4 linked regions of the Homo sapiens genome follow. The protein of the gene in region 3 purifies or fractionates together with the protein of the main gene of each other region. This does not show direct contact. Each region holds a gene or a part of one and is shown on either strand. Other genes may lie near its edges.

What was found.
Region 1: the proteins of CIP2A (region 3) and OCIAD1 purify together in Homo sapiens (co-immunoprecipitation; one large-scale study listed by IntAct). This does not show direct contact.
Region 2: the proteins of CIP2A (region 3) and ENOSF1 purify together in Homo sapiens (affinity purification with mass spectrometry; one large-scale study listed by BioGRID and IntAct). This does not show direct contact.
Region 4: the proteins of CIP2A (region 3) and USP33 purify together in Homo sapiens (co-immunoprecipitation; one large-scale study listed by IntAct). This does not show direct contact.

The regions. Positions count from the first base shown.
Region 1 is NC_000004.12:48,835,078-48,843,531, forward strand, and holds part of OCIAD1 (OCIA domain-containing protein 1), read left to right. Parts: intron 1-7,558; coding exon 7,559-7,612; intron 7,613-8,454. UniProt on the Homo sapiens protein: Maintains stem cell potency. Increases STAT3 phosphorylation and controls ERK phosphorylation. May act as a scaffold, increasing STAT3 recruitment onto endosomes. Involved in integrin-mediated cancer cell adhesion and colony formation in ovarian cancer.
Region 2 is NC_000018.10:672,611-681,064, forward strand, and holds part of ENOSF1 (mitochondrial enolase superfamily member 1), read right to left. Parts: intron 6,128-8,454; coding exon 6,086-6,127; intron 5,263-6,085; coding exon 5,133-5,262; intron 4,835-5,132; coding exon 4,735-4,834; intron 2,793-4,734; coding exon 2,711-2,792; intron 1,797-2,710; coding exon 1,695-1,796; 3' UTR 388-1,694; coding exon of another isoform or gene 250-387; 3' UTR 1-249. Other genes in the region: TYMS (thymidylate synthase), read left to right, coding at 250-387. UniProt on the Homo sapiens protein: Plays a role in the catabolism of L-fucose, a sugar that is part of the carbohydrates that are attached to cellular glycoproteins.
Region 3 is NC_000003.12:108,576,522-108,583,980, forward strand, and holds part of CIP2A (protein CIP2A), read right to left. Parts: intron 6,563-7,459; coding exon 6,456-6,562; intron 5,682-6,455; coding exon 5,587-5,681; intron 4,991-5,586; coding exon 4,894-4,990; intron 3,168-4,893; coding exon 3,045-3,167; intron 2,906-3,044; coding exon 2,760-2,905; intron 1-2,759.
Region 4 is NC_000001.11:77,747,888-77,753,352, reverse strand, and holds part of USP33 (ubiquitin carboxyl-terminal hydrolase 33), read left to right. Parts: intron 1-5,465. UniProt on the Homo sapiens protein: Deubiquitinating enzyme involved in various processes such as centrosome duplication, cellular migration and beta-2 adrenergic receptor/ADRB2 recycling.

The sequences.
Region 1 (8,454 bases), on a different chromosome or scaffold from region 3:
CGTGCGCCACCATGCCCGGCTAATTTTTGTATTTTCAGTAGAGACTGGGTTTCACTATGTTGGCCAGGCTGATCTCGAACTCCTGACCTCAGTTGATTCACCTGCCTTGGCCTCCGAAAGTGCTGGGATTACAGGTGTGAGCCACTGCGCCTGGCCCTGAAGTAGTTTTATATGTGGTGAGACAAAGCTAATACATGAAACACTTAGAGATTAAGTGTGTAACTGCAGAAGACTTTTTAAAGAGATAAATTAATTAGAATTGACTTACTGAAATTGAAAAATTTGAATAACTTTTGAGATTTTAAAACTCAAAATTTTCTCAAAATTTTACCAAATTTCAATTTGGTAAAAACTGAAGCCTCTTACAATTTTACAGTTGTGTTTTTCTGTAACATAAGGTGGAATACCTGAGTTGGAAAAAGACCTTTATTTGTTAAGCAAACAATACTTTAACAACTTTATAATAGTACTGTAGGCCAGGTATGGTGGCTCACACCTGTAATCCCAGCACCTTGGTTTTGTTTTGTTTTTTATTTTTGTAGATACTAGGTTTTGCCATGTTGCCCAGGCTAATCTTGAACCCCTGAGTTCAAGCGATCTGCCTGCCTTGGCCTCCCCAAATGGTGGAATTTCAAGCATGAGCCACTGAACCTGGCCCCAGCACATTGGGTGGTTGAGGCAGGAGGATCGCCTGAGACCAGGAGTTTGAGACCAGCCTTGGCAACATAGTGAGACCCTGTCCCTAATCCCCCAACAACAACAACAAAAGAATTAATAGTTAATAAGTAGATAAGTGAAGAGGAAAGGTGGAGTAGCATTTGGAAGAAAGGAGTAGTGAACAAAGGCAGAGTTTGCAATAACTTCATCTCTGCTGGAGCGGTGAGCCTGAATTGATTGGAACAGAGGTCTTTCATTGAGGATAGAACGTAAAACATAGTAATGAGTTAAAGGTTTGATCCATTATATCGTTTAGGTTCTTGAGCAGAGGGGGGTGATATGTAAGGTTTTTTTTAAGGAAGGTTAGTTAACAGTGTGCAAGATGGGTAGAAGGGTGAGAAGTTGTACTTGGTAAAATCTGTTTTGAGCTTTTGGCAGTAACTTAGGCATATATATGTAGTCAACGATGAGATATAGTTGATTAGTGTGTCATTTGGACTGGAAAAGATGAGCTGGCAACGAAAGACTTTTTAAAGGACAAATAAAAGGATTTTTTAAAAAGTTCGACTAAGGGGGAATGAAGGAATGGTAAGAGGGAGGTAATAGCTTTAAGATAACCAGCTTAGGAGACTCAATGATACCTCTGAATAAAAGGTTCATTTAGAAGGAGTTCTTGTTTGAAGATGAGTTTAGTTCAGACGTTTTGAGTTCATGGTGCAACATTCGATTGTCGAAGATTTCTAAGCAACTACAGATAGAAACAAAAGCATACATGAAAAATTAGTTTATTGTGGAGTTGTGTTGGTGAATTCGCCAATAAATTAAGTGTAGAGATAAAAGCATAAAACTGATAATAGTTTCTGCCCTGTGATTAATACTTAGGATTGATAGAATAAAGGATAAAGTTTGGATAGTACCCATGGATAAGGGAACAAGTGATAGTGAAAGAATCAACAAAGACCAAGAGCAGTTAGGAAGATAGAGGAGCTCTGATAGAATCTTTGTCATTTTATCCACCAATATTCAGAGACTTGCAGGTATTTCAAGCTAGAAAGAACCTGAATAAGAATTAGGTGATGATGTCCATTTTAAATTTATGATGACTATGCATCTAAAACAGTTATTCTCAACTGGGAGCAGAATAACTGGAACGAGTTGAGAATAATTGTTATAGATGCATAGTCATCATAAAGTAAGGGCTTCTATAAAATTTTCATGGCTCATTAGAATGGGAATAATTTCTTTCTTTTTTTTTGAGACGGAGTCTCGCTCTATCCCCCAGGCTGGAGTACGGTGGTGCAATCTTGGCTCACTGCAAGCTCCGCCTCCTGGGTTCATACCATTCTCCTGCCTCAGCCTCCCGAGTAGCTGGGATTACAGGCGCCTGCCACCATACCTGGCTATTTTTTTTTGTATTTTTACTAGAGATGGGGTTTCACCGTGTTAACCAGGATGGTCTCCATCTCCTGACCTTGTGATCCACCTGCCTCGGCCTCCCAAAGTGCTGGGATTACAGACGTAAGCCATCGTTTTTTTTTTTTTGTTTTTTTTTCTTTTTTCGGTGTTCTTTTTTTTGTGACTGGGTTTCACTCTTGTTGCCCAGGCTGGAATGCAATGGCACAGTCTTGGCTCACTGCAACCCCTGCCTCCTGGGTTCAAGCAATTCTCCTGCCTCAGCTTCCCAAGTAGCTGGGCTTATAGGCGCCTGCCACCATGCTCAGCTAATTTTTGTATTTTTGGTAGAGAAGGAGTTTCACCATGTTGGCCAGGCTGGTCTCGAGCTCCTGACCTTGTGATCTGCCCACCTCGGCCTCACAAAGTTCTGGGATTACAAGCATGAGCCACTGTGCCTGGCCAGAATGGGAAGAATTTCTTAGAGAACTTGGCTGTATACTCCAGCAACAGTTCTTTTTTTTTTTTTTTTTTTTAAATCTTTGAAGATTATATAGAGTAGATAGGATAAAATGATCTATTTTTAAGTCTTGATGACACAGGATTAAGAAAAAGGCAAGTGTGATAGAGGGGATTTGGGATTATTGTAGTGTTGGGCTAACGGTTAAATAGATGCTAAGGTGTCCAGATTTATTTCTGGCTGATAAATGTATGCTGCTGCAGGTGTTTAACAATCTAAATAGCTGTGACAGGTTTATGCCAAAAGTACATTAAAGGGTAGTGAACAATGTCAGGATGCCCGTGTATACCAGACTCTTAATAGTGGGACATGTGGTATATGAACAGTACAAAGCTAAGTGATTTCTGTGCATTAAAACAGATAAATCACAGGTTGAAAAGACAAAAAGCGGCTGGGCTTGGTGGCTCACACCTGTAATCCCAGCACTTTGGGAGGCTGAGGCAGGCAGATCACCTGAGGTCAGGAGTTCGAGACCAGCCTGACCTATATGGTGAAACCCCGTCTCTACTAAGAATACAAAAATTAGCTGAGCATGGTGGCAGGTGCCTGTAATTCCAGCTACTCGAGAGGCTGAGACAGGAGAATCGCTTGAACCCGGGAGGCAGAGGTTGCAGCAAGCCAAGATCGTGCCACTGCACTCCAGCCTGGGCGACAGAGCGAGACTCCATCTCAAAAAAAAAAAAAAAGACAAAAAGCATGTGATAAGGACAGGCTGAAAGACAGCTTGTTAATTTTATACCATATCTACATTACTGAGAAATTACAGCAGCCAAAAAATTACTGTATTAATAGGTAGCATTTCACTCTCAAAACAGATAACCAAGGTGTTGTTGCATATTATAGCATCAAACATTGAAATGTAGAAGCTTGGTTGTAACCAGGTGATAGGAAGTTCAACGTATAATTATCAGAAGGATGATAATCATACATAGGAAATTTTGTACTTTAACATTTGTACTTTCGAATTAGATAGTCTATGCTGTATGTGACATTTATGTAAACAAATAATGGCATCTGTTACTTTGGAGAGTATCACCTTGGATTAGAAAAAGGTGATAAAAGCATTTACGAATTTATAAAAAAGCACTTACTAAGGTAATTTTTTATACATTTTTTAGGTCTGTTAAAATACTTATCCTCTTCTAAAATTAGACTTGTTGATCTAGGGACCATTCTCTTTCCTTAAGATAACTATGTTTCTATACTGACCTACATTCCATTAATCTGAAATATAACTATGAAGGCATCTTATTTCTAGGTGCTTAAAATCGTGACCCTATGCACTGACCTAAAATCACTATGTCTGTGCCCAAACACACAGGTAGTGAAGACCCTGTGCATATAGGGTCAGTTTATTGCATATTCATGTTAAAATAGTTCTCAAACTCCAGAATTACTAAAAAGATGTATCAGTTCATATTTGTATCAGCTGGAGTCTATGAATAATATTTCATATATGTGTACTACTAGTTTTCAAATGATACAGTATAAGAGTGATAAGAGTATGGGCCAGGCATGGTGGCTCACACCTGTAATCCCAGCATTTTGAGAGGCCGAGGTGGGTGGATCACTTGAGGTCAAGAGTTCAAGACCAGCCTGGCTAACATGGTGAAACCCTGTCTCTACTAAAAATACAAAAATTAGCCAGGTGTGGTGGCACATGCCTGTAGTCCCAGCTTCTTGGGAGGCTGAGGCAGGAGAATGGCTTGAACTCGGGAGGCAGAGGTTGCATTGAGTCAGGATTGTGACATTGCACTCCAGCCTGGGTGACAAAGCGAGACTTCATCTCAAAAAAAAAAAAAAAAGAGTATGGACTCTGAGGCCTGATTGGCTGGATTCAAATCCCAGCTCCACACACAGTAGCTGTGAGATTTTGGACAAGTTCCTGAGGTCTGTGCTATACTTTTCTTATCTATAAAATGGGGATAACTGCCTAGCTCATGAAATTATTATAGGGATTAATGCAATTTAATTAAGTGTTGGCTATCTTTATTAAATAGCTATTAGTGTTATTATGATTAATGAAATAAAAATTTTTATTGACTACAGTTAGGAATATAGAGTAGCTTTTTGTTACTGTGAGGGGAGAAGAGTTCAAATAATTGTAGGGATTCTTGTATATATTGAATATAGTTTGGGACTGTGGTAATAATGTGCACTAGGTTTTGGTCAGCAGTATTACTGATTTGCCTATAGAGACAGATTATTTAACAAAATAGATATTACATACTGTAGTGGAAAAGGCCACTGACTAGGGAGTCAGGAGACTTGGGTTCTGATCTCAGCATTACCACAAACTAACCAGCTGTGTTGCTTTGAGCAAATGACTTGTCTTTTCTGGATATTAGTGTACTCAGATTGGAATGAGGACTAGATAATCTCTGAAGCCTCTTTCAGTCTTACCATTGTCTTTTTCTGTGACATAAAGTAGAATACCTGAGTTGGAATGAGACCTTAGGTCTAATCCATTATTCCTTTATAGCATGAGAAGAAGCTATGCAAAGACATTGTGGTGAATGGCAGAACTAGTACTAGAATCTCCTCGAACAGACTATTACTCTGCATTAAATGGGGAAAGCATTATCCATTGTAGAAATGGCCAGCTAACTCATTGCCTTTTATTCTTATATGATTCTTCAGTGCTTCATGTTGCAATCCTTGAGTCAAGCTGGAGAAAAATGATTGCAAATTGTACTGGTGCTGTAATTAAAAGGGATTTGTCCTTTGCAAAACCTTAAATGATAAATGATAATGCATGAAGGCATTCTAACTAGCCAACATTAAAGAAACCATATTTCCAGCAAAGGTAAAATCTGTTAGTAAGTAGGATAGCATGAATTCAGACCTTAGCGTTTGTGCAATTTGTGTGTGATGGCAAAGTTAATGCCCTATTCCAAAGTGATGGATTTTAATCATGAAATCTGTAATAATTCAAATGTCTTAATTACTTTGGTTCTTAAATTGTCCATATATGGTTTAGACCAGAGTTGAACAAACTAGCCCATGGACCAAATCTGTTTTTGTATGCATGAGCTAAGAATTGTTTTTACATTTTTAAATGGTTAAGAGGCTGGGTGCAGTGGCTCACGCCTGTAATCCCAGCACTTTGGGAGGCTGAGGTGGGCTGATTACTTGAACCAAGGAGATCGAGACCAGCCTGGGCAACTTGGCGAAACCTCATCTCTACAAAAAAAAAAAAAAAAAAGAAAAAAGACAAAAAATTAGCCAGGCATGGCGGTGCATGCCTGTAGTCCCAACCACTTGGGAGGCTGAAGCAGGAGGATCATCTGAGCCGGCAGGTTGAGGCTGCAGTGAGATGAGATTGTACCACTGCATTCCAGCCTTGGTGATAGAGTGAGACTTTGTCTAAAAACATAAAATAAGATAAAATGGTTAAGAAATCAAAGGAAAAGAATATTTCATTACGTGTGAAATTACATGAAATTCATATGTTTGCATCTAAAAATAAAGTTTTGTTGGAACACAGCTACGTTCATGTGTTTTTGGATTGTCTTTCGGTGCTTTTGCTTTAAAACGGCAATTGAGTAACTGGGACAGAGATTGGCCCACAAAACCCAAAATATTTACCATCTGGCTCTTCATAGAACGTGTTTGCCAACCTCAGGTCTGGAACAGCACTGTCCAGTGTGGCAGCCAGTAGTCACATGTAGCAATTTAACTTTAAAATAACTTGCAGTGAAAGGATATAAAGCAAAATCATAAAAGGAAAGGGAGCATGGGGTGAAGTCCGGCGGAAACCAGGTCCCAAGAGTTCTCTTCCCAGGGAGTGTAAATTTCTCCAACAGCTAGTCATAACAATGTGTGAAGTTGTATCTACCCGGGGAACTCATTAGAGACTCAGTGCCCACAGTTTTTATTGGGGGCTGGTCACTTATTCACCCTCTGCCTAACAGGTACCAAAATTCCAGACTCCTAGAATGAAAGCAGATGTTTGGCATGAACTGTATTTGTACAAACAGTTTGGGCACAGTGAGCCAATTACGCATATCAATGGGGGGAACTGTTTACCAGTCAAGTACCAAGACCAAATTGATCACAGGGTTGGTCACTCAAAGACCAACTTCCATTATCATAAAAAATTCTGTTAGACAGTGCTGGTGTAAAGAACAGTGATTCATAGCTGTTTTTAAGTTATAGCCCCCTTTGAGATTATGAGTTTTGGATTTTTCACTCTCGGTTTTAGGCATATATATATATAGATGTAATATTTTCATATAGTTTAAGGAGTTCACTAGTTTAGAAGAAAGAACATAAGTGTTTAAAATATGTGCTTTTTAATTTTTGCCCCAGCCACCGTATGATTACGGTCAAATATGTTTTGTATTTTGGTTTAGATGGTATACTAGAGCTTAAAAGCTTGAGATCTGGTATCAGACAGATTTTATTAGAATCTGTAACCAACCATTCAACTAGTTGTTTGGCCTTGAGCAAATTACTTAACATCTCTAAGCTTCAGTTTCCTTATCTTTAAAAGGGTGGTAATAACATTATCTACCTTATAGAAATATGATAAAAAGTATAATAAATGAGATAATGCACATAAGGCGCTTAGCATGATGCACAGAATTTAGTCATTACTCAGTAGTGGTTCTTACTTGTAACTTGTTTCTTACCTCTCCTTCATTAACTTTTTCCCCTTCTCTTACTTCAGAAGTAATTTTGAGTCACTTTTACTGTGTTGTCTTAGTTGATGCTGTTGATGAACAGCTGGCTATTTGGAACCTAAGCCTAGATGGTTCATGAATTATATTGTTTAATATTTTGTGATGTTTTCTTAAATTTAAAATGCTCCTTTAATTTTTCCACTATGTATACAGTACAGCTTTTAAAAATGGAACAGTCTTTTTTAAAGGTCTTAGTTATGCAATATAATTCCTAGATGGTTTTACTGCTATTCATTTATCTAATGAACTTTAGACAAAATCTTTTACTTTTGTTGATGTTAACAAGGTCTTTTTCTTCCTATAGCTGTGCCTTTGGCTGCAACAAGTATGTTGATTACTCAAGGATTAATTAGTAAAGGTAAATATTTAAAATTTGAATTTATTTAGCATTTTGGATACCATGTTTGTTTTGTGGTATTTTCCAGGTCTTTAGAAAAAGTAAAGATAACAATGTATCATATTAAACACTATGTAGAAATTCATTGATGAATTTAAACGTTTTATCTCTGTGGACCCACTGGCTCAAATATCATGACTTGAGAATTTCTCCTGCACTAATAGCATCATTAACAATCTGCAAGAGCAAGAAGGTAACTAAACACCAGTATTAGCAGGGCAAACCTGGTCTAGGTGGGCCAATAGCAACATTATTGCCTAGGAGCTTGTTAGAATGCACATTCATGGGGACCAGGAGTCTGTGTTTTAACAAATTCGAAGTGATTCTTATATAATGATTTAAAGATCAGTAGCTCTCTAAACCAGCTTTGTCTGATCACCTGGGGCGGATGAGTGGCGGTGAGTTAGCATTATTTAAAAAATCAGAATCTCAGGGGTCTGGCAGGTGATCTATTTTTAACGAGCCACCGAGGAGACTTTCTTGTCCTAAAGTCTATTGGCTCAAATAGTACAGTAGTGGAATTGAGTTTAGATTGAGTATTAAATGTCTTGAGTCCTGCATTTAAAATGTAGTGGAGTAAGCAGTAGAGTTGCTTAATTCCTTTACTTCATGAACTATCTATCTGGTAATGGGAAGGTGTCCCAGAAAAGGATGGTGACCTTAGGATGGCCTGGAGGCCTATTGTTTTAATTAACTGGCTCCTTCAAAAATGTGACTTAATGATTGGAAGATTTAGCCTTTTCACATTAGGATATGATGTATGGTACTTAGTTTTGACACAATTAGTTGATAAAAGTAGTTTT
Region 2 (8,454 bases), on a different chromosome or scaffold from region 3:
CCTGATGAGGCACCAGGCTCCTGATGCTGTGTAATGTCACAAAATACCCCTCACTCTCGATCTGTGCAAGAGAACAGCTGGTTGCGCTCCAATCATGTTACATAACCTACGGCAAGGTATCGACAGGATCATACTCCTGTAAAATAGAACTTTGTTGATCACATCCTGTGTACTTGTTTCACGGACATGAGGAGCAATTACAACAGGTCGTACAATTATGGCAAAATAATGGCCTTATTTTGTTTTTAGCTTCAGCGAGAACCCAGACCTTTCCCAAAGCTCAGGATTCTTCGAAAAGTTGAGAAAATTGATGACTTCAAAGCTGAAGACTTTCAGATTGAAGGGTACAATCCGCATCCAACTATTAAAATGGAAATGGCTGTTTAGGGTGCTTTCAAAGGAGCTCGAAGGATATTGTCAGTCTTTAGGGGTTGGGCTGGATGCCGAGGTAAAAGTTCTTTTTGCTCTAAAAGAAAAAGGAACTAGGTCAAAAATCTGTCCGTGACCTATCAGTTATTAATTTTTAAGGATGTTGCCACTGGCAAATGTAACTGTGCCAGTTCTTTCCATAATAAAAGGCTTTGAGTTAACTCACTGAGGGTATCTGACAATGCTGAGGTTATGAACAAAGTGAGGAGAATGAAATGTATGTGCTCTTAGCAAAAACATGTATGTGCATTTCAATCCCACGTACTTATAAAGAAGGTTGGTGAATTTCACAAGCTATTTTTGGAATATTTTTAGAATATTTTAAGAATTTCACAAGCTATTCCCTCAAATCTGAGGGAGCTGAGTAACACCATCGATCATGATGTAGAGTGTGGTTATGAACTTTAAAGTTATAGTTGTTTTATATGTTGCTATAATAAAGAAGTGTTCTGCATTCGTCCACGCTTTGTTCATTCTGTACTGCCACTTATCTGCTCAGTTCCTTCCTAAAATAGATTAAAGAACTCTCCTTAAGTAAACATGTGCTGTATTCTGGTTTGGATGCTACTTAAAAGAGTATATTTTAGAAATAATAGTGAATATATTTTGCCCTATTTTTCTCATTTTAACTGCATCTTATCCTCAAAATATAATGACCATTTAGGATAGAGTTTTTTTTTTTTTTTTTTAAACTTTTATAACCTTAAAGGGTTATTTTAAAATAATCTATGGACTACCATTTTGCCCTCATTAGCTTCAGCATGGTGTGACTTCTCTAATAATATGCTTAGATTAAGCAAGGAAAAGATGCAAAACCACTTCGGGGTTAATCAGTGAAATATTTTTCCCTTCGTTGCATACCAGATACCCCCGGTGTTGCACGACTATTTTTATTCTGCTAATTTATGACAAGTGTTAAACAGAACAAGGAATTATTCCAACAAGTTATGCAACATGTTGCTTATTTTCAAATTACAGTTTAATGTCTAGGTGCCAGCCCTTGATATAGCTATTTTTGTAAGAACATCCTCCTGGACTTTGGGTTAGTTAAATCTAAACTTATTTAAGGATTAAGTAGGATAACGTGCATTGATTTGCTAAAAGAATCAAGTAATAATTACTTAGCTGATTCCTGAGGGTGGTATGACTTCTAGCTGAACTCATCTTGATCGGTAGGATTTTTTAAATCCATTTTTGTAAAACTATTTCCAAGAAATTTTAAGCCCTTTCACTTCAGAAAGAAAAAAGTTGTTGGGGCTGAGCACTTAATTTTCTTGAGCAGGAAGGAGTTTCTTCCAAACTTCACCATCTGGATACTGGTGTTTCTTTACAGATTCCTCCTTCATTTCTGTTGAGTAGCCGGGATCCTATCAAAGACCAAAAAAATGAGTCCTGTTAACAACCACCTGGAACAAAAACAGATTTTATGCATTTATGCTGCTCCAAGAAATGCTTTTACGTCTAAGCCAGAGGCAATTAATTAATTTTTTTTTTTTTGACATGGAGTCACTGTCCGTTGCCCAGGCTGCAGTGCAGTGGCGCAATCTTGGCTCACTGCAACCTCCACCTCCCAGGTTCAAGTGATTCTCCTGCCTCAGCCTCCCATGTAGCTGGGATCACAGGCACCTGCCACCATGCCCGGCTAATTTTTTGTATTTTTTGTAGAGACAGGGTTTCACCATGTTGGCCAGGCTGGTCTCAAACACCTGACCTCAAATGATCCACCTGCCTCAGCCTCCCAAAGTGTTGGGATTACAGGCGTAAGCCACCATGCCCAGCCCTGAATTAATATTTTTAAAATAAGTTTGGAGACTGTTGGAAATAATAGGGCAGAGGAACATATTTTACTGGCTACTTGCCAGAGTTAGTTAACTCATCAAACTCTTTGATAATAGTTTGACCTCTGTTGGTGAAAATGAGCCATGATCTCTTGAACATGATCAGAATAAATGGCCCCAGCCACACAATTGTAGTCCAAACTTTTTAGGTCACTAACTTGCTAGATGGTGCCAGGTTTTTTTGCACAAGGAGTGCAAATGTTAAGATCTCCACTAGTGAGGAAAGGCTAGTATTACAGAAGCCTTGTCAGAGGCAATTGAACCTCCAAGCCCTGGCCCTCAGGCCTGAGGATTTTGATACAGACAAACTGAAGAACCGTTTGTTAGTGGATATTGCAAACAAACAGGAGTCAAAGCTTGGTGCTCCACAGTCTAGTTCACGAGACAGGCGTGGCAGTGGCTGGCAGCATCTCTTCTACAGGGGCCCTCAGGCCACAGCTTACCTTGGGAGGCATGTAGGAAGCCCGCTGGATCATCACGGGATACTTGAAATGCTCATGCAGGTGGTCAACATACTCACACACCCTAGGAGGAGGGAATCAGATCGGGGCAATGATGCCTGAAGTCAGATTATTCACGTGGTGCTAACTTAAAGCAGAAGGAGCGAGTACCACTCAATTGACAGTGTTGGCCAAGGCTTAGCTGTGTTACCATGCGTTTCTAGGCAAGTCCCTAAACCTCTGTGCCTCAGGTCCTTTTCTTCTAAAATATAGCAATGTGAGGTGGGGACTTTGATGACATGAACACACGAAGTCCCTCTAGAGGTTTTGTGGTGCCCTTTAAAAGGGATCAATTCAGACTCTGTAAATATCCAGAATTATTTGGGTTCCTCTGGTCAAAAGTCAGATGAATAGATTAAAATCACCACATTTTGTGATCTATTTTTCAAGAAGCGTTTGTATTTTTTCACATGGCTGCAGCAGCTGCCAGGGGCTTGGGGTTTTTTTGGCAGGTAGGGTTGGGAGGGCCATTTTGTCACTGCCTCAGCTGGGCATCTAGGAAGCATTAGCACTGTGAGGCTTTCTCGGTACACTTTGTACCTGGAAAACAATCCGAACAGGTCCATGGGACCACAACTGAGGGAGGTGGGACACACCCACCTCCATCCAAGAACCAAGACATCTAAGGAAGCAAACCCAGATGCAGAACAATAAAATACATTCCATACTCCCCACCCAAAAAATAAAATCACCAAATGAGGTTCCTTTCAGCTATACAAATGATTTAGATGAAGAGCAGAGGATTTAGAATCAGGTCAATCTGTGTTCAGGTTCTGCGTCAGCCACTTTGTAGTTCTGAGGCTTGGGGCAAGTGACCGAGCTCTGCTGCCTGACTTCCATCGCCTGTTATTGAACAGCTGTGACAGGCAGGCTGATATGGTTTGGATTTGTTTTGGATTTGTGTCCCTGCCCAAATCTCATGTTGAACTGTAATCCCCAGTGTTGGCAGCAGGGCCTGCTGGGAGGTGATTGGATCATGGGAAGTGGTCCTTCATGAATGGTTTGGCACCCGTTCCTTGGTGCTGTTCGAGATAGTTATCACAAGATCTGTTGTTTAAAAGTGTGTAGCACCTTCCCCCCTCACTCTCTCTTCCTCCTGCTCTTGGCCATAAGAAGTGCTTGTTCCCCCTTCACCTTCCATCATGATTGTAAGTTTCCAGAAGCTGAGCAGAAGCCGCTATGCTTCCCGTGCAGCCTGCAGAACTGTAAGCCAATTAAACCTCTTTTCTTTATAAATTACCCAGTCTCAGGTATTTCTTTATAGCAGTGCAAGAATAGACTAATACAGTATAAAATAGTTCGGCTATATTAAAAGACAGCACCTGTCTACTCACTACCCCCCTGAAGAGAAAAACGGTTACCATTATTACTGAAGCCTCCTATGTACCCTCAAGGGTCCCATTTATCACTCACAGTCCTGAATTTGGTGTTTCCCTTTCCCAGTGAATGCTTTTGTGCCTTTGCTATATACTTGCAGTGATCTTTCTGTGAGACATTTAATTCCAGGAGACAAGAAAAGTGGAATAAGCAAAACCCTACGTGTGCAGATGACTGGAAGGAGATTGTCCTAATTTAAAAGCCCACCTGGGGCGTTCTGAGAAATAAGATGAAATAAATGTGTGTCTAGACCATGGAAGACTCCAGTACTGGGAAGAGGAGATGGGACAGAAGTACAGAATACACGTGATGAAAACAGGAGCTGGTTAAGGGAGTAGTGTGGCTGCAAGCCTTACCTTCAATGTACTTAAAAAATAAAGTGAGTCAGCTACCAGACCCTATCTTAGGAGGCAAAATGACCGTTCATTGGTGGGTCTCTGTGAAAGCAAAACCAACTCCGCCTGAGAGTTATAGGACATGCCAGCGGACAAGGTCTTAGTGTGTTCTGGTCATGAAGGCAGAATTTACAAGCTCTGGCCTGGATTGAGGGACCCTACTGAAACAGAAAGTATTAATGCCACATTACTGACCTATTTTCAAGGCTTGCAGAAACTGATATGTAGTCAAATATAATCAGGTGCTGCACCAGTTCACAGAGGCCAACTCCACCAGCATGGGGGCAAACAGGAACTAAAAGGAAATCGTTTCTATTTAATACCAAGAGTAGGGCAGGGAGAGGAAGGGGTGAAAGGGAACTTTCTGGTTTTTCTTATTGCCCACAGGTGATTAAATCATTTATTAATATTTAGGAAGGAAATTCCAAGATGAAAATCATCAAAAATTCCCGGATTAAAGCTAAATGAGAGTTAGAAAAAAATCGAAATGGCAAACTACAGACTCCCATGCATGTGAATTGCAAACCATCAAGGGAGGTGTCTGATTAGTGGGGAAATGAAGGTCTGGTCTGCAGCCGCTGCAGCACGCTTACTTTCAAACTTTTTGGCCATCAGCAATACTGAGAGGTTCTCATTGACACTGCCCAGTCTGCAACTGTCAATCTGGAGGAACTGCAGGGCCTTCGCCTGTAGGAGTTGCTTAAATATCACTCTATTGTGGCACTGGAAATAGAATTGAAAATAACACCAACAGAAGAGTCAGCCTTGGCCTTCAGGATCTCTAAACCTGGCAACGCAGCCACTCTATGCCAATAATTATTCATCAGTGGCCGTCAGGAAGCCCAGACTGTATTTCTTCTTTGTTCTCGCTGGGCATGAGGCGAGCTTTTATAGCGTGGGCAGGGACCTTGTGCTCACTTCTTTACAAATCTGCTAATGCAACAGTGTGAGTCAGGTCAAAATCACACTGGCTCGCCATTTATGAGGGAATGACTGTCACAGCGACTGATAAGTGGGAGATGAAGCATCAGGATGAAATACGGTGACAGTGATGAGCAGGTGGCACAGATGACAACACGGAACCACGGCAGAGCAGTATTGCTCCTTTTGCCGGGAAAACTGAGAATCAGCTCCTCACGCTGCTCTGCTCGTGGGCTGACTGCAGCAGGTTTTGGCAGGCACTCGGGCTTCATTTATAAGCTCAAAAAGTGAACGCAGTCATGTTTATTCAATTTGAAAGCTGGCTTTCTTAAGACCATTTTCTGCCCTTGCAATAGCAACTTTAAATTGCTGCCTTTTCAATTTCAATTAGACACTTTGAAAAAGATACCCGACCTTAGTCATATAAATTGGAGAAATAGCCACAAACTTTTTCTATATCTGACTCTAGACTCTGATAAAATGACCCAGTTTCTAAGATGATGAAAATTTCCCAACTCAAAGTACAGCAGGTGATGGAGCCTAACACACAACTGTGTCCTCGGTCACTGGTCAGCGTGTACTGACCCCAAGGGGACGTCATCCACCTGTTGGGGGCGTCACTCACCTGTTCTCCTGTGGCAATGCCAATTCCTAATGGGACCAGTGCCTATAAAATAGAAGGCAGCCTGGTGTTATTTTCCTAAGTTTTGAACTGCAACTCCTAATGTTTAAAAACATTTATAGCTGAAGGAGGAAACGGCCCTGCTGTTAAGCCATGTGAAGGCTCAAGACTGGCAAAGGATGTCCAGGGGAACACATGCGTGCGGGAGGGCTCTGTGTATCTGCAGAGGAGAAGGTGAGCACTGCTGAGCTGCCACCACCAGCCCCGTTCCTGACCAGGGCTCTGCAGATCTCCTTCTGCGGTGTCCCGGCCCATGCTCCAGCTGCGCTCCTCCCAACGTGGACAGCACCTCCCTCTCCAGCCTGCGCAGTGGCATAAGGACAGGGCTATTCGGAGTGGCTCATTGTGGACTCACAGGGTCCAACCTTTGGACGACTCCTTCCTGTGGGTCATCACTCCATCAATTCCCTTCTTCTTGCCTCCCTGAGAAACCTCCTTCTAGAACCCTCTCATATCTTTTTTTTTTTTTTTTTTTGAGACCGAGTCTTGCTCTGTCACCCAAGCTGGAGTGCAGTGGCATGATCTTAGCTCACCGCAACCTCCACCCCCCAGGCTGAAGCGATTCTCGTGCCTCAGCCTCCTGAGTAGCTGGGATTAGAGGTGCACGCCACCATGCTGGCTAATTTTTGTATTTTTAATAGAGTCAGGGTTTTGCCATGTTGGCCAGGCTGGTCTCAAACTCCTGACCTCAGATGATCCTCCCGCCTCGGCCTCCCAAAGTGTTGGGATTACAGGTGTGAGCCACTGCACCTGGCCTCATGTCTTTGTTGATTCCAAAATCCTCTTCCTTAAGGCAGGAAAAATCCATGAAAAAAAAAAAAATCCTCTTCCTTCCAGCTCAGTGGGTGGCCTCAGACCTCAATCTGCAGGTTAGGCTGAGACCATTGCTCACCTGGTAGAGTCCTCACCTGGTGAGGTACTGGACTCTGCACCTGAACACAGCCCTGCTGCTCTCTGTCCTCTCACCTGGCCCCTGAACACTACCTCCGTCACCTGCCACCTGGACTCTGGGCGCTCCCATCCATCCTCTACTGTGACTGCGACTCCACAGCTACTCCGCACAGGTAGCCTTGGTTCCTCCCTGGCTTCCCTTCCCTTTGCTTAGGGTAATAGTAATCACACTGACAGCTAACATTTTTGGAGCTCTGAGTACCTGTCAGGTGCTGTGCAAAACACTGACTTAAATGATTCCTGGTCTCAATCCAATGGGAGAGGAGCCAGCGTTATCCCCATTTTATAAAAAATGATAAAACTGTGTGCCGGGTTTGAACTGTTCCTGGATCACAAAGCTAGAAAGTGGTAGAGACTGGGTTGGAACTCCACTGATTCCAGAGCCAGAGGAGGCATCTGAATAATCAGACTAAGCCAACTTCTCAGCAGAAAAATCCCTTCACTCAGCAGCCAAGTATCCCTGATTCCGGTGCTGGCCCCGCATCTCACGGGATGTGTGGCCTTGGGCAAGCCCCGCCTGTGCCACCCAAAGCCTCGGCCTCCTCATCTGCAGAAGGCCTTAGTTTGAGCAGATGGTCTCTAAGGCACCTTTTCAAGCCAACATTTTATGCTTCTTAAAATTTCTAATTTAAGTACTCTTGGTTATTTATCTCCAAAGAGAAGAGAAAGGGAGAAACGGAGGAAGGGGGAGGAGGAAAGGCCATTTGACTTATTTGTTCTACCATTTTAAGCATATATGGCAGACTAGGGGCCAAATGTTTTTCCTCCTTTTCAATATTTCCTGAATCTGCTCTATTCAAGCTGCCCTCTCCCTTTATCTCTCTCAGATTCCTGGAAAAGCCTCCTCGCTCCCATCCCTGCCTGGGTTTCTCCCTGCCCATTCCTCACCTCCCACACACCCTCTGTCTCAATGGACTCTACATGTAGCCACCAGTCACATTATCTGTGCTTCAGCTGTCACTATGCTGTTGTGTTTTTTTTTTTTTTTTTTTTTTGAGATGGAGTATTGCTCTGTCGCCCAGGCTGGAGTGCAATGGCGCAAACTTGGCTTACCGTAACCTCCACTTCCCAGGCTCAAGCCATTCTCCTGCCTCAGCCTCCTGAGTAGCTGGGATTACAGGCACACATCACCGCGCCCTGCTAATTTTTTTTTTTTTTCTGAGATGGAGTCTCGCTCTGTCACCCAGGCTGGAGTGCAGTGGTGCGATTTTGGCTCACTGCAAGCTCCTCCTCCTGGGTTCACGCCATTCTCCTGCCTCAGCCTCTCCGAGTAGCTGGGACTATAGGTGGGCGGATCACGAGGTCAGAAGATCGAGACCAGCTAATTTTTGTATTTTTAGTAGAGACGAGGTTTCACCATG
Region 3 (7,459 bases):
TTATGATATACATAAATTGGCTGTGTCATTTATTAAAACATAGTGATTCATGTGGCAATAAATAAATCATTAAATTTCTTTATCCACGAATACACATCACTATTAAAATTTTCAGTGTCTCAATTGCTCTATTTTTTTAAGATTGTGTTCACTTTGTAAAAATTCAAAGGACAGAAGAATATCCTAATACATTATACAGCTGCTTACTTATAAAGCACCTAAAATTACCAGGCATTAAATTTGTCTCTGCAAATAAAGAAGTAAGGGGCAGCAACCCGCGTTACACAACTCCAAGAGGTACTGTGGGACCCCTAGCATTATATTCTATGTGACTGATGTATCCTAGATTTGGGAGATGGTGCCCTGACAGGGAGTTCACAGTCTGAAGATGACAGAAAGAGATAATACAAGGTAATATAAAATACAATGCTATAATGGAGGAATGTAGGAGACACTATGGAACAAAGAATATTGTCTCAGTATTAAACCCAGACTCGAGTCTTAAAAACAAAAATAGAAGTTAGGCATATAAGAGAGAAAGTATTCTAGTCTTCCAGAGGGAACACTCTAGAGGAAATAGCACATGGATACATAAAAGGGCATTTCTAGTGAGCTGGAAGTTCTATTTATTGTCTGATATTAGACAAAAAAACAAAATGTGTGAAGAAATAAGGTTGAGAGGTTGTTAGGGATCAGATTTTGAAGGGCTATACTGAGAATCTGGATATTCACCTTGAATGCAATGGTAGGTCAAAGATTTTAAAAGGGATATCTGGTTGAAGAAAAAGTTTTGAGCATATTTGTAAGTTAAAGGGGAAGGGTCAACTGAATAGGAGGCCCCGAAGAGAGAGGAGCAACTGCTTCAGAAAAGACAAAATGAGGCAATACATAGAGTAATGGTACATATTTATGAGTGAAACTGGATGAAACTAAGTAAGAATTTGGTATAAACATAGGTACGTTTGTCCAGGGGCAAGGATTTCAGGGAGCTCCAATCAAATGGGGCTCCATTTAGATATTTATTTTCTGTGAAACAAAGATAAGGTCATCTTCTGCATAAAAGGTAGCAAGAGAAAAACAAAAAATTTCAAAGACCGGCCAGGCCAGCAGCTCATGCCTGTAATCCCAGCACTTTGGGAGGCTGAAGCGGGTGGATCGCTTGAGGTCAGGAGTTCAAGACCAGCCTGGCCAACACGGTGAAACCCGTTTTCTACTAAAAATACAAAAATTAGCTGGGCGTGGTGACGTGTGCCTGTAATCCCAGCTACTTGGGAGGCTGAGGCATGAGAATCACTTGAACCCAGGAGGCGGAGGTTGCAGTGAGCCAGGATCACACCACTGCACTCCAGCCTGGGCAATAGAGCGAGACTCTGTCTCTAAATAAATAAATAAATAAATATGAAAGATCCACTGTAGGAAATGAGAAAGCTGACAAGTAAATATAAGAGGTCTGGCCCAGGTAAAGTTGTGTGATTTTCTAAAGCTGTAATTAGTAACCATGCAGTTAAGTTAGACTTTGGAAGAGATTCAGGATTGGGTTATTGTTCAATGGCATACCAGAAAAACAAGAGGAATTGCCAGAGGTGATTCTGGGATTCTACGATAGAGTATAAAATAGATAATAGAACTGAGAGATTTACAGAATAAATGATTAAGCTACCTCTTATTAATGCTAAACTGGATTATCTTTTAGTCTTCCAGACGAGGTTTATTCAAAGGAATTTTTCTGTTTACTATGAAGATGCTGAATAAGCACTATCTGGTGGGTAGAATAGATATACATGGATATTGGGAGAATCTCACAACAGATGAAGAGAAGGCAGGTCATGGGAAGGCACTCTGGAAGAAAAAGCTCACCTATCTAGAGATTCTTAAGAGAAGAAAAAGTGAAATGCTAAAGTGAATACTTCTTGGTTTTGCAAAGTATCAGCTGAGCCATATGAACAATGGTCAAGTTTGCCCTAGTGCTTAGCTTTCATTAAAATAAAACTTATAGATTCTATGTTTCTTAAACATCAGGGACTGTGTCTTCAAATCCTATTGCTGCTAAGTGCCTGATCATAGGTGGGGTTCAGTAAATGTTTTCTTGTGTGTGAAACTCTTTGAAACAATTTCAATTATTTCCTAATTTAGGATGACAAAGCAGCATAGGCCCCAGCAAAATTTAAGTTAGAATGCACAAAGGCCACAAGCTTGTTGGAAAACAATTACTACCTGATCTCAAAACATAAATGATCATATGAAATACACTGAGATAGAAAGGACATATGTTCCTATTTTACCTATGAAAAGAGGCACACACCAAAGGAAACATTATCCATTTTTATACAAAAAATAAAGACACAAACATAATGACATCAATGTTTCAACACTGTTTCATTTATTTATAATTTATGTAGAAATATTTATTTTTATTGTTCCTATAATAAAAATACTCTTTCAAATAATCGTAATGCTACTTACGTTTTAAAACTGGTTTTAAAATAAATTAGCCAAGATGTCTATATTTTGGAGAATGGCACAACCCTATTGATCTAAAGCAAAGACTGAAATACACACATAGACAATGACCTGTTATACTTTCCATTTCAGTTCAGGAAAGAAAAAAGAGTGTGAGTAAAGCACATCAAAACATTTTAGTCTACTGTGAATCAGTAGAATCCAAGTTTATTATATTTTAAGAAGACAATTCTGTTTATAACCAACACATCTTGGTTTAAAAATAAAAAAGTTCTAAAATTGACTGAAGTGAGTCATACCTGGTGAGATAATCAGCAATTTTAGGATTCTTAAGGAGATCCATCAGTAGGTCAACTGAATACTTTCTAGTTAGAGTGCCATCACCGTTTATGAGAATATTAAATATTAGTTGAAAAGTCTGATGAATGTTTCGAGCATGGAATAGCTTAAGGACAAATTAGAAAAAGCATATTAGACAAAAAATTAAGTTGACACCATCCTAAAAGGTAAAAATAAAAAAGTCTCAATGACTTTTAAAATATCAGACTATAAACTTCAGAATAAATTTGAAAAATTGTATTTACCTTTTCCCCCACCTCTTCATTTAATGTCAAACTGGATAATATTGAAAGTGCAAACACAACCACAGTTAAACTACTATGGGCCAACAAGGTGATAAGAGTTCGATAAAAAGATTTCACATTACTCTGAGGAAAAAAAAGTTAAAAAATAAATTAGAATTATAAATTTTATGTTTTGGTTTAAAAAGTATATCTTGCACAGAGTGGGCAAACTTTTATTAAACATCATTATCAACTCTATTAAATGATTGTTGCATTTAAAAGATAAATGTTCTACAGGAGAAATTTAGATCAGAGATAAATTTAAATTCAAAAATTGTTATAAAGAGAGTACCTACAGAAAAAAATAATTTGGTAAATGCGTGCAAACGAGTTGGAGATAAATATTTCCAAAGTTTTGTCACCTTAGAATAAATAATTCAATGATGGTAAATCAGGGTGTCAATTCTAATAAAGGGACACATGCAGAGTGGAAACAAAAGAGCTACCTTAAATACTGCAGGATTTGTGTTAACAAAAGAACTGTAGCATTTGTTAGCATTTGTGTTAACAAAAGAACTGTAATGAGGAACTCTCATAATTGTGGTGGAAGCAAAAAAAATTCAGCAAATTTAAGAATTTGTTTTACGTTACACACCGTGGAGCAGCAATTAACTTTGCCATATTTGCTGATTAGCATTTAGATTTAAGAGATCACTGCATGTGTGAGCAAGATGGGTAGTTTCGTATATTGCTGACAGTCATATAGATAGCCACAATCTTGGTGAAGAGCAGTTTCTACACATGAAACTATGAGCAAATGTTTATTCTTCCTTATATTTAAGTGTTTCCTAAATATGAACATATGAACTTTTTTTTCAATTCAGAAATTGAAACACACACACACACACACACACACACACACACACACAGTTACTCCACCTCCAAAGTAAGACCAGGGCAGAAAAATGTAGCACTTGAACAAGTGAGATATTAAATTTAAAATCGAACGGGTAATGCTGAATAGCACAGCAGGGAAATTGTTCACCAAGCACCTTAAAGAATCAGTGACTTGCTTGATTTAATATACTTTGTTTTTTTTTTTAAGGATGGAGTCTTACTCTGTTGCCAGGCTGGAGGGCAGTGGCGCGATCTCAGCTCACTCCAACCTCCACCTCCCGGGTTCAAGCAATTCCCCTGCCTCAGCTTCCCAAGTAGCTGGGACTACAGGCGTGTGCCACCACGCCTGGCTAATTTTTTGTATTTTGGTAGAGACAGGGTTCACCATGTTGGCCGAGATGGTCTCCATCTCCTGACCTTGTGATCTGCCTGCCTTGGCCTCCAAAGTGCTGGGATTACAGGTGTGAGCCACCATGCCCAGCTGATTTAATATACTTCTAAAAGTGATTCAGTTAAATTCATTTGTGTGTCTTCATTTATCACAAGTACTGTTGGTTCATACTGAGCACTTAACTCATGAATCTTTCTGGTGGGGTTGCCATTGATTTTGTGGAAACACAAGACTGAGATAAATGGGACTGCCAGTGATGTGCCTCCCTTCTAAGAGCACAAAATAATTTAGTAATTCTTGTACTACTCAATGTAATAAATAATGGGATGCCATGCTGAGGAAAACTTTTAGAAATAAGTGTTTGCATTAACCCTTAACACACAGTCTTCAATACAACATACACGAAGGCTGAAGTGCTTCAAGTTATTTGTATGTCAATCTGACTCTTAATTTTGATGGGTCATCCGATAAGACACAGAATCCTTGTTCAAATTTGTTTTAAAGAAAAAGATAAATACAATTTTCTTTAAGCAGAGAATCTACCATAAAACAAGAAACATTAAAAAGAAATAAACTTCTTACCAATGTCTTTATGTGCGTTTGAACAGAAAGATTGTGCCGACAAAGATTTGCCAATAATCCTAGACAAGGCATTTTTAACTCATCTTCAGAAGATTGACTGTTGTTTTACATTGGTGTTTTGTTTAAAGAAAAAATAGTAAAAGAAAAAAAGCATTAACATTATTCTAAGTCAAAATGATATAGTTAAGTTTATACATTTCAATTCCCTTTTACACGCAAAAAAAAAAACTAATTAACATAAGAAGCCAGGGAAGCTTTGAATAGTATTGATCATTTATCTCATTTTAAAACCAAATTACCCTATTCAATTCCATCATGAAAACATGGAAGTAACTGTCAGCGTGGACCATGTGCTGTTTCATCAGTATATTTTCCTACAAGAATAACTACACAATTTTCAATTTCAGTAATTTTTTTCTGGCCAAATCAATTCAGTCCATAAATTTTTCTTATGAAAATTAAAGTTGCTTTACAATTTTTTTTTCCTTTTTACATTTTTTCACCAATGAATGAGGTCACATACTTTTACAACTTTTGATCCTTAAAATCATCTGGGCAGAACAAATAAGAATCGGAGTCTCACTCAGTTTATATGTTAGAAAATGTTATCTAAGAAAAATTAATCTACCACATGGTTGTAATTTAAAAATAAACAAATAAACTATTTGGTTTTATGTTTGATTGCATACTCACATGTGATCTATCAGGAACGTAATTAATTCATCTATATTGGCACCAGAATAGAAAATTTTGACATTATATGTTAACTTCTGTAGAAGTTGAATGCACTGAGAATAAGAAAATAGTTATAAATATAAAGATATAAAAACATTGCCTGCTTAAAATAATGGACTCTCAGGCACATTCTGAGCATGTCCTTTTCCATTTCCTAAAACAATTTTTTTAAAAAACACATGTAAAGTAATGTAAGAACCTTAGGGCTCTTCTCTCAATTCACACATTTCTACGTATTCTGTCTCAGAGCATGGTTATCAACCTTGTTCACTTAGTCATCTTAAACTTGAATGCAGTTTGAAACACACATGTAGTCCATCAATTAGAAGATACCCTTCTTCACATTTTATCACCTCTAAAACTGCATGTCAATTTAATTTGTGATGTTTTTCTTTCTTACAATTGATGACATTTTAGAGTCAATGAAATATGAAGAGCTTTGAATCTATATTAAATAGACTCTATCTACAGCTTTAATTTTTGTAGAACGTTTCCTCCACAGATTGAGACTAGATGCCAACTCACGTTACAATTTTAATATAAATAGCTTATGTCTCAAAACACAGACATCTGTGTTTATAAGTCAAAGCAGTTATAATGTAGATTTGTTTTTCTTCAATAGTGGTGATAGAAATGGATAAGCTTCTCTTCTCTAGAAACATTTAAATTGTATGTGTGCAACCAGCTTTTAATGAGATGAACTGTGCCTAATCATGTAGTATTTATTATATAGCATATATACACTGTAAGTCAGCAGTTTATGACAGAAACTATCAATTTTGATCTGACAGTAAGGAAAGGGGAATACACTGTGTGGGTCTGTATACCTGCAAAAACACCGAATCAGTGTGGCTGCTCCGACAAACCACTCCCGCCAGCACACTATTCAGATTATATGTATTCTGAAGACAATCTCTGGTTTCAATGTCTACTGCTATAAGTTAAAATAAAAGCACAAAATATATCATTTTCTTACAAGGTTTTGCAGATAATTCATACAGAATTTATTTCATATGAATTTATTATTAAAAAAGGTATGATATGGCTATTTTCTTATTTTCTTTATGATAACCCTCCAATTCAGAAATTCAAATGATTTCTCTATGTAAAATAAACTAGTATCAAAGAAAAAACTTGTTTACACATTTGTAGCAAGCTTTTTCTTTGATACTAATTATTTTAGTATCAAATTAAAATCATTTACTTTGAATATTAAAAGATTATCACTTTATGGTATATTTACACAATGGAATACTATTTGGCCATATAAAAGAATGCATGCCATTTGCAGCAACACGGATGGAACTGAAGGCCATTAGGTTAAGTGAAATAAGCCAGACACAGAAAGAAAAATATTGCATGTATTCATTCATGTGTAGGAGCTAAAAAAGTTGATCTCATGGAAGTGGAGAATGACAGTTACCAGAGGCTGGGAAGAATATGGGTGAGTGTGTGGTGATGGGAGGTGTGAGGGGGAGCCGTTAGTGGGGGAGATGAAGACAGATTGATTAATGGATATAAACACACAATCAGATGGAATAAGTTCTAATGTTTGATAGTAGAGTAAGGTGACTATAGTTAACAATGTATTGTATATTTCAAAATATGACTTGAAATGTTCTAAATACATAGAAATGATAAATCCTCATTTGTGATGGATATCCTAAATACCCTCAATTGATCATCACATACTTTATGCAGGTAACAAAATATCATATGTACCCCATAAGTTTGTATAAATATTATGTATCTGTGAAAAAATTAATTTAAAAAGATTATCATTTCAATTTTTCTGGAAACCTCAAATGCTTCTAAAGTATAAACACTGGAA
Region 4 (5,465 bases), on a different chromosome or scaffold from region 3:
GCCTCCCAGAGTGCTGGGATTACAGGTGTGAGCCACCATACCCAGCAAGACTGGTTACTCTTTTTATTCTGAAACCTTGAAACCTAGTGTTCTGTTGATTAATTGAGTAGGAATTGCTACTTCTTCAAGGGTCTAGAATCCAAATACCTGACCCCCTTTTTTGGTCTCAGTTTATATGGTTGATTCTTTGAATCCCAATGTCGAATATCACATCCATCATTATTAAATTTCGTCCTGTTAATTTTAGCTAATTTTTTTTATTTTTTATTTTTTGAGATGGAGTTTTGCTCTTGTCACCCAGACTGGAGTGCAGTGGCATGATCTTGGCTCACTTCGACCTCCTCTTCGCGGGTTCCAGCAATTCCCATGCCTCAGCCTCCCAGCTAGCTAGGACTACAGACGCACACCACCACGCCCTGCTAATTTTTTGTGTTTTTAGTAGAGACAGGGTTTCACCATGTTGGCTAGGCTGGTAATGAACTCCTGACCTCAGGTGATCCACCGGCCTCGGCCTCGCAAAGTGCTGGGATTACAGGTGTGAGCCACCACGCCCAGCCAATTTTAGCTTATTTTAAAAAATAGTTTAATTTTTCTTTAAAAACTTATTTTTATAATTTTAAGTTTATATTTTACTAGCCTGCCTTCTGTAGCTTTATCCAGGTTATTGTTAAAAATATTGAGCAGTTCTGACACCTGCTAGTGAAGACCTCCTGCATTCATATTAATCTTATATGTAACTATTAAATAGCTACCAATCCTTCTGACATAATTTTTTTTCTCTGTAATGTGAATCTGACTTTTTATGAAGAGCTTTACTTTTTGGAATAGACTAGGCAATGGAATTCAGGCAGTTTCTCAATATTAAAAGCTCCTTAGGTTACCAACTATGTCCTGATGTGTAATTATTATATTAAGGCCAGGCGCAGTGGCTCACTCCTGTAATCCCAGCACTTTGGGAGGCCGAGGTGGGTGGATCACTTGAGGCCAGAAGTTTGAGACCAGTCTGGGTAACACGGTGAAACTCCGTCTCTACTAAAAATACAAAAATTTAGCTGGATGTGGTGACACATGCTTGTAATCCCAGCTACTCAAGTGACTGAGGCATGAGAATTGCTTGAACCTGGGAGGGAGAAGTTGCAAGTGAGCCGAGATTGCGCCACTGCACTCCAGCCTGGGCGACAGAGTGAAATTCTGTCTCAAAAAAAAAAAAAATTGTACTAATAACATGGTTCCCTATACTTTTCCTAATATTAAAATTTGAATAGCTGATTGATTATCTTCTATTAGGATAAGGGGTCAGAATTTCAACCTGGAATTTGGAGATTGTACTACGAAAATATTCTCCCCTTAAAAGTAATATCTTCGGGCGCGGCGCGGTGGCTCAAGCCTGTAATCCCAGCACTTTGGGAGGCCGAGGTGGGCGGATCACGAGGTCAAGAGATCGAGACCATCCTGGCTAACACAGTGAAACCCCATCTCTACTGGAAATACAAAAAATTAGCTGGGTGTGATGGCGGGTGCCTGTAGTCCCAGCTACTCAGGAGGCTGAGGCAGGAGAATGGCGTGAACCCGGGAGGTGGAGCTTGCAGTGAGCTGAGATCGCGCCACTGCACTCAAGCCTGGGCGACAGAGCAAGACTCCGTCTCAAAAAAAAAAAGGTAATATCTTCAGAAGCAGTTTTGTTTTGTTTTTGAGACAAGGCCTAGCTCTGTCACTCAGGCGGGAGTGCAGTGGTGCAATCACAGCTCACTGCATGCAACTTCTGCCTCCTGGGCTCAGGTGATCCTCCCACCTCAGCCTCCTGAATAGCTGGGACTGCAGGGGCATGCCACCAGGCCTGGGTAATTTTTGTATTTTTTTGGGGTAGAGACAGGGTATTGCCGTGTTGCCCAGGCTGGTCTTGAACTCCTGGGTTCAAGCAGTCCTCCCGCCTCAGTCTCCTAAAGTGCTGGGATTACAGGTGCGAGCCACCATGCCCAGCCCAGAAGCAGTTTTGCATTTACTTTAATGCAGATGAGCAATTTAGCCACCGGAGCTGTACATCATAGAGCGTGAGTGCAGTCGTTTTCATCTGGAAAAATTTTCAGTTGGTGTTGCTGCCATCATTATTGGTGAGAAAACTTCCAGTAGTCCAGTTAGTGTGGCAGATAGAGGAAAAAGCTGCCAGATACAAGATTACAAAGATAAGGACAAACAGATAAAATCTTGTGCACTCTTTGTGATTTCCAACTTGTAAGTCACAAGCTTCTACAGGAGTCTTAGTTTTGCAAAATCTACTTCTGTGGATTGGACAATAGCATTTCCATATACAACCATTTTCTGTTTTTTTCTAATGTCTAATACTCATCTCCTGTGATTAAATTATCAGACAAGAATGGAAGCATACATGCCTTCTTTCTTTTGGTGTACAATTTGAGAAGAAATTGAAGTAGCTAAGAACTCCCATTGTCTTACCCTACTATATCTGAATGCCCTACCCTCAATAAACATTTGTCAAATAAAGGAATAAAAGAATGATTTTATTACCTTAGTAAATAAACTGAGTAAAACTAGGCAAAGAAAATACTAAGGGTTTTCTATTTTGATAGCATTGTATTATACGGGATACTAAATATCCTTGGGACAAATTGTTAGCCTTTGTTTACATGCACTAATTCTTTTCCTTTTTCTTTCTTTCTTTCTTTCTTTCTTTCTTTCTTTCTTTCTTTCTTTCTTTCTTTCTTTCTTTTTTAAGTCAGGGTCTTGCTGTGTTGCACAGGCTGGAGTGCAGTGGTGCAATCTTGGCTCACTGCAACCTTTGCCTCCTGGGCTCAAGGGATTCTCCTGCCTCAGTGGAACTACAGGTGTGCACCACCACGCTGGGCTGATTTTTCTATTTTCTGTAGAGAGATGGGGTTTCACCATGTTGCCCAGGCTGGTCTTGAACTCGTCAGCTCAAATGATCTTCCCGCCTTGGCCTCCCAAAGTGCTGGGATTACAGACCTGAGCTGTCATGCGTGGCTGCCCAGCCAATTCTTTCTTTCTTTCTTTTTTTGGAGATGGAGCCTTGCTCTGTTGCCCAGGCTGGTGTGCAGTGGCGTGATCACGGCTCACTGCAACCTCTGCCTCCTGGGTTCAAGTGATTCTCCTGCTTCAGCCTCCCGAGTAGCTGGGATTACAGGCACCCACCACTATGCACGGCTAATTTTTGTATTTTTAGTAAAGAAGGGGTTTTGCCATGTTGGCCAGGCTGGTCTCAGACTCCTGAACTCAGGTGATCCACCTACTTCGGCCTCCCAAAATTCTGGAATTACAGTCATCGCACCTGGCCCTGCCCAGCCAATTCTTATTAAATTGTTTAGATAATGCAAAATTAATAGCAGAGCAGAGAGAATGTATTTATGTTTTATTCTTTTTTTCATCTCAGCTATCAGCAGAGAGAATTTATTTTAATCTTATTTTTTGCTTGAGATTTTAGAAAAAAATATTTATCTTGGAAGTTTCTTTTCAATCCTCTGATCCCATTTCTTTCCTCTGAGGCAAAATAGTATTGCCTAAAAAGCAGTGAGAAGAACATCTACATTTCATTGGCAAATGCAGAATTTTTACTTTAGAGGAAAATACATAGCTTAAATACTTTCAGTAAACAAAGCGCTCAGTACTCATCTTTAGGGATTAAGAAAATAAAACCAGGCTGGGTGCAGTGATTCATGCCTGTAATTCCGGCACTTTGGGAGGCTGAGGAGAGTGGATCACCTGAGGTCAGGAGTTTGAGATCAGCCTGGCCAACATGGTGAAATCCCATCTCTACTAATAATACAAAAATTAGCCAGTCGTGGTGGCACACGCCTGTAGTCCCAGCTATTTGGGAGGCTGAGACAAGAGAATCGTACGAACCTGGGAGGTGGAGGTTGCAGTGAGCCAAGATTGTACCACTGCACTCCAGCCTGGGCAGCAGAGCGAGACTCCGTCTCCAAAAAAAAAAACAAACAAAACAAAAAACATAAAAAAATACAACCAAAGGCAAGTAGGATATGGATATTAATGGAATTGAAAACAGATCAGAACAAAAATAGTGGAGAAGATAAATAAATCCCAAATCTGGTTCTTTGCAAATACCAATGATCTAGATAAACATCTTGTAGAAGAAAAAGATATGGAATAAAAATGTACAAGATTGGGAATGAGTAAACACCATAGACCCCAAATACAGGAGACATTAATGGAATCTTTTGCAGATTTTCTTGAGAATATACATGTAATGCTATACTGTCAAAGTTATTTCAAGAGAAAATGGATGTTGTTATAGCAAAATGTCAATGAGTAAAATTGACCCAAGAAGTAAAAATGTTAATTGCCCAATCCCCATGAAAGGTTTGAAAAAATGATGGAAGATTGGTTCTTGACAGAGGCAGCATAGCATATAATTTCACAGCTGAGTTTCATTTATGAAGAACAACACATCATTATAATAAAAAGGAACTCTCTTTTCCATGATGAAGAATGCAAAGCTAGTCAATGCATTCTGTGAAGCACACATATTTTATCTCTGATAAATGCTGCCAATCCTGATTCAAGCACGGGGGGGGGGGGGAGGGAAGGAATGCTGCCAAAAAAGAACAGTCTCACTTATGCCCAGAAATGCAAAATTTCTAAATACAATATTAGCCATAGTTCATCAAGACCATTTCTTTTTTTTTTTTTTTGAGACGGAGTCTCGCTGTGTCGCCAGGATGGAGTGCAGTGACGCAATCTTGGCTCACTGCAGCCTCTGCCTCCCGGGTTAAAGTGATTCTCCTGCCTCAGTCTCCTGAGTAGCTGGGACTACAGGCGCCTGCCACCATGCCTGGCTAATTTTTGTATTTTTAGTAGAGATGGGGTTTCACCATATTGACCAGGCTAGTCTTAAACTCCTGATCTTGTGATCCACCCGCCTCAGCCTCCCAAATTGCTGGGATTACAGATGTGAGCTACCATGCCCAGCCCATCAAGACCATTTCTAATAAGTAAAGTAAGAATAGAGGGAAGTTACAGCAAATATCCTAAATGTCAAGAGCATTAAAATTAGAAACTTGATGGGGACTTGGGGATGCCCATGATCACATTTGTATTCAGTATTGTCTTAAGAGGTTCTGGTAAATGCATTAAAACAGTAAAAGTGAATAATGGTGTTAATATCAGAAAATAAGAACTAAAACTCCTCCCCTTGAAATAAGAACTAAAACTCCTCCCCTTGAAAAGAAGTAAAACTTTTTGAAAGGTTGAAACAAAATAAAAATGGAAAACTTATGTTTTCCATTACAGCCACAGTGTAGCCAGGGAAACCATGAAAAGGATTAGTGAGGAGGTGTGTCTTTTGTTACCAAAATATTGTATCTAGCCTCTGTAATCAGATTAATATGGTATTGTCATAGATTGGTGGAATAAAATAGAGAATCCAGAAATCCAGTATATGTGCAGATTTAATAAAAGATAAAGGTAGTATT